Regions from separate parts of the Homo sapiens genome. Here region 2 is linked to region 1. Evidence: fine-mapped expression QTL. Tissue or cell type: whole blood. Region 1 holds a variant in brackets; the other region holds the start of a gene. All regions are shown on one strand. Distances are from middle to middle.

What was found. PIP is the estimated chance that this variant, and not a neighbour inherited with it, causes the effect.
Region 2: PARD3 starts here. The variant in region 1 is fine-mapped to the expression of PARD3 in whole blood (TOPMed, PIP above 0.99).

Annotation. Positions count from the first base shown.
Region 1 is chr10:34,708,934-34,711,690 of GRCh38, forward strand. All of the region lies in intron 1 of PARD3 (par-3 family cell polarity regulator), which reads right to left. Among named protein-coding and RNA genes, the nearest start is that of PARD3, 100 kb to the right of the region's middle. The variant C/T (reference allele first, on the strand shown) is at 1,439.
Region 2 is chr10:34,813,833-34,816,332 of GRCh38, forward strand. PARD3 (par-3 family cell polarity regulator) reads right to left here and starts at 1,464. Exons shown (of 25, transcript NM_001184785.2): 1 at 1,044-1,464. The coding sequence starts at 1,163. PARD3-DT (PARD3 divergent transcript) reads left to right here and starts at 1,936. Exons shown (of 2, transcript NR_108043.1): 1 at 1,936-1,969; 2 at 2,288-2,500. RefSeq lists silencers at 703-982, 1,503-1,672, 1,763-1,812.

The sequences.
Region 1 (2,757 bases):
AAACACCCTTATTCTAAGGAGTTGTGTTCTGAAGTATTTAAAGTGCCATGTCTGCAAATAGTGCAAAAAAATACACACGTACACATATATGTACATGTGCACATGTACATATACATATAAACATACAGGTGAGAACCCCTAACCCAAAATGCTTGGGACCAAAAGTGTTTCAGATTTCCATTTTTTTCAGATTTTGGAATATTTACATGCACATGAGATTTCTCGAAGATGGGACCCAAATTTAAACAAAAAAAGTCATTTATGTTTCAAATATGCCTTATACACATAACCAGAAGGTAATTTTATACAATATTTTAAATAATTTTTTACACGAAACCAAGTTTGTATTAAGTCCAAGTTTGTGTTAAGTACTTATGTGTGGAATTTTCCACTTGTGGTATCATGTCAGGGCTCAAAAAGTTCCAATTTGGGAGCATTTCATATTTTCAGATAACAGATGCTCCACCTGTATACACACACGCAGGAATAAATATGTATTATTAGGAGTGCGAACAGGAAAATGCAAATCATCTCAAGTATTTTAAAGAGAGGGAAGTTAATACAAGGAACTGGTACAAAGATTTGTAAGAAGAGTCGTGACTCTAAACCAGGATGGTGGTGGAGGCGGGGGCCACACACAGGTTAGCAGTAGCAGGAAGCTATGACTACCCCTGGGCTGAGGGGATAAGGGGAGGTAGCACCAGAGCCCAGGGTGGCGGAAGTGGGAGCCATGGAGGACTCAGGGGCAGGAGCTGGAATTTGGGGAGAGACTTGTTTGCTGCAGAGACACAGCCCAAAACAGAGAGGGAGAAGGGAACTACTTTGGGGCTATGTCATCCCGGGGCCTCCTATCTCCCACCAAACCTCCCACTGGCCAAACCCAACCAGAGGTCAACTGACACAGCTGTGCTTTGTATGATTCTCTCAGCTACTATTTGAGTTTTTCATAACAAATTGGGAAACCAAATTAATTTTAAACAAATTTAATGACCCAGGGTTCATGAGAATACAGGAAGCCAGCATTCTCACACACTGCGCCTGAGTATTTTGCACACATTTTTGGAGAGGCGGGGGGACAGGGAGCTAGAATTTGGTACCACGCATCAAAATGCTTAAAATGAAATATACCCATTGATCCAGAAATTTAAAATGTGGAGGAAGATACATAGCCAAGATGCATATATTAAATGGGATATTTTAATATATAACAATAGAGAATGGGAACTAGCTATACACGTAAAAACAGGAAACAGGTTGAACACATTCAATCAATTAAACACAACAGAGCAATTCACAATGTTGTTCACCGACTGTTACATAAGACTTTGTTTCATCCCTAGTTTGAAGAATGTATTATCTACAGCCATAGACAAAAGAACTGCTATGCACAACTGGCAGTGCTTGTCTATATTTCCTGGCATTCCATAATAAATATATA[C/T]GTGCAGTTTTAAATATTTATCCTCTTAAATAACTAGTGAATACATTTCTTTCTTTCCCATCTCTTCCTCTCCTGTTCCCAATAAAATGACTGTCCAATTCACTTCTAGACCCCATCTCTTCAATCCTGTGCCACATCTTGCTACATTTATCTTCACAAAATATTCCCTTTATCATGTGACTGTCCTGTAATATGAGTCATTTCCAATGACTCACTACTTTCTAAAAGTCAAAATCCAGTGTTCTTGGCCAAGCACTCAAAGCTCATCCCAAGCCGGTTTGTGACCAGCCTCAGCGTTGCCTCACCGTATTTCGATGTTCAATTGTTCTGTTCACTGATAAACCCCAAGCACCCAAAACAGTGTCTGAGACAGAGAAGATGCTCAATAAATACTGGTCAAGTGAAGAGACCCTTATGTTTTTGTTTATTCTCTTCCACATATCTGCAAAGCTTTCACCCCCAGAGTTCCAACTACCCAAATTGTATGTATCTTCCCAAATCCAGTTTATAAACCATCCCCTTGGCCGGACACAGTAACTGGCACGCATAACCTCAGCACTCCAGGAAGCCAGGGCAGGAGCATCACTCGATGCCAGGAATTCAAGACCAGCCTGGTCAACATAGCAAGACTCCATCTCTATAAAGCAATTAAAAATTAGCCAGGTGTCACGGTGCACACCTGTAGTCCCAGGTATTCCGGAGACTGAGGCAGGAGGATCACTTGAGCCCAAAAATTCAAGGCAGCTGATGAACTAAGATTGCATTGCCACACTCCAGCCTGGGTAACACACCCAAACCCCTAAAAAAAAGTAAAAACAAAAACTCCCCCTCCATGAAATGTGCTCCAACTCTGAAGTATTTACCTAGGCCAGGTGCAGTGGCTCACACCTATAATCCCAGCACTTTGGGAGGCCAAGACGGGTGGATCACTTGAGGTCAGGAGTTTGATACCAGCCTGGCCAACATGGTGAAACCCCACCTCTACTAAAAATACAAAAAGCTAGCTGGGCGTGGTGATGGGCATCTGTAATCCCAGCTACTCGGGAGGCTGAGGCAGAAGAATCCCTTGAACCCAGGAGGTGAAGGCTGCAGTGAGCCAAGACGGTGCCACTGCACTCCAGCCTGGGCACAGGGCGAGACTCTGTCTCAAAATAAATAAATATTTACCTAGAACACATTTGTCACTTAATAGCCTATTTCCTGTATATGCATGGTAATTTTTTTACTCTAGATAAGGTCTCCAAAGGCAGGGGCCATCTTCAGCTTTTTTTAGCATAGAACAAACAAAGCACTGTGTTGCATAACTAGTGTGTCCCAGA
Region 2 (2,500 bases), 100 kb after region 1:
AATGCGCTCCCCACCAAAGAGGACTCTACTACAAAGGAAATATATCCCCGGGTGCTTGGGAGAAACTTCAGCGTGGGCTGTTGTCAAACACAGACACAGTCGGTAAAACAATTTAACAAAACGCCTTTTCACTTCTGACACACAGTAGAGGAATGCTGTGAAGTGGAGACAATGTTATCAGTCCACCAGGAAAAAGGGAAATCCACTCAACTCCCAAGTCAGGCCCGGCCCCGCAGCCCAGCCACATGGAACCAGCCCGGGATAGGTAGGAGCTGAGGTCCTCGCAGGAAAACTTTTCATTCCGCGACTCTTCCAAGGTTGTGCTTTCCAGAGCCCAGCAAGTGGGATCAGCTCAGTAAATGCTCGCAAGCGAGTGCCAAGTGCCAGCGGTGGCCCTCCCGGGAACGCCTCCCCGACCCCAAGCCGGCGACTCCCCAAACCCTGCAGCCCCCGGACGCGACGGGCCGCCCCTGCCGGCCCCTACCAGCAGGGGACATGGAGGAAAAGCCCCCCGCCGCTGTTCCGCCCCCGCCCGAGTAAGGGAGAGGAGGCAGAAGGCTCGCAACCCGCCTCTGTCGGAAGGGCAGTCACGAAACTCTCCTCACACCAAAAGTTCCCAGTCCCCGGCCTGTGCCCCCGGGGCCTGGGAGCCGGGAAAGGCCTGGGGCTGGATTTCCCGGCCTGCGCCCCCCGCGCGCTGGCTCGGGGCTTGGCTGGGTCTGCAGACTCCGGGGAGGCGCCCAGGGCCGGCCTATGCGCCGCTGCCCGGCTCGCCCCGCGCTACCGAGGCCGGAGCTCCCGGGCGGAGGGTGAGGGCGGGGGCCGCGGGACCCGGCTGGGTGTCCCAGAGGCTGCGCCCCGGCCCGCGCAGAGAACTTTGGCGCCCGCAGTCCGGGGCGGGGGGCGCCCGCGAGGCCCGACCGGCCGCACTTTCCCTTTCCCCGCCTCCCTGCGCCTCTCCTCCCCCTTCCAGGAAGCGCCATATTGATCCCGGCGCCGTCCCCGCCGCCGCCCCCTCCCCGCCCGCGCCCCCGGCCCCTCACCTTGGCGATGGCCTTCCGGTAGCGGGTCACCGCCTGCTGGATGAGGCTGAAAACTTTCATGTGGCCGTCCCCGCACGGCACGACCACCCGGGTCCGTCCGAAGCACACGGTCACTTTCATGCCGCCGCCGCCGCGGGCGGGCCCGCGCCCCTCGCCGAGCGCAGCCGGAGCAGCCGAGGCCGGGACCGAGGACGCTGGGCGCGGAGGAGCCGCTGGGGACTCGGGCGCGCGGGCGGCTAGGGGCGCGGGCAGGCGGCGGCGACGCCGGGGGGCCGCTCAGCTCGCATGCCCGGCCCGGCCGCCCTCGCCTCGCCTCGCTTCGCCCGGGGCTTGCCTCGCCTCTCCCCGCCGCGGCGCCCGCAGCCTCCGGCCACCTGTTCGGCGTCGCGGCGCGCTCGCCGGCGGCTGCCCGGGGCTGTGTGGCGCTGGCGCTCGCTCGGGGCCGCTGGGGGAGGGGACGGCGGGAGGGGAGGGGAGGGGAGGGGAGGGGAGGGGGAGGAGCAGGGCAGGGCACACAACACCGCGCACATGCGGCAGGGGGAGGCGCGGCCGGCTACCCGCGCGGGGCGGAGCGCAGGACCGCAGCTCGCGCCCCCGCCACCGCCCTCGGGGGCCGACCTCCTTCCCTCCTTCCCTCCCTCCCTCCCTCCCTCCGGGGGCGCGGGACCCCTCGCCCCAGTGCCAGCACGGGCAGGCGGCCGTCTGCCCCCACCAGCCCTGGCCCAGGCGCCCCCCAGCCCCCTTCACCCCGCCCGCCCAGCACCCTGCAGGGCTGCGTCGCCCCTCCTCGGGGACGCCCCTTCCACGCCTCCAGAAGTCTCCACGGAGCCCCCCTTCCCCTTTCTTTGTCACTTTTAATCCCATTCCTCGAACTGGAGGGTTTTGGGTGCAGGCGCTCCCGGGGAAAGCAGTTTGTGCTCAGTGCGGTGAGTCCCCTCCTCACCGCCCCGGAGGCTCCAGCCCGAGCCTCTCCGCCCGCGGGGACTCGAGCCTGCAGCTTGCTCGGCTGGGTTTCTGCCCTGCCCGCTCCCTAGCTCTGCTGCAGGGCCGGCAGCGGCAGTTCTGCCTGAAACGCAAGAATTAATAGTCTGCTCTGGGGAGACAGTGGGGAAGCCGTGAGCGACCGGGCCTTTTCCAGAGGCCACTATTTACCTTGAAGTTTCCTGTTGACCCTCTGCTGACCCACCCGCTTAAATAGATTAGAACTTAAACATCGCAATTCTGATACATTTATTTCTTTGAAGTTCTGCAGCATAAGGAATCCTAACGCGAATCCGTGAACAGTCTATTCCGACGGCGCAGAGAAATCTCACGCGGGGATCCCCACGATGTGCCGGCGCTTAACGCAGACGCCCGAACCCAGGGGAAGGCTGCGACTCCGCGATGAGTGACATGCGGGCTTGAGACGTTCTAAAGGAACGTGGACCGAGTTAGGGAACGTAACTGAAGCTCATTTT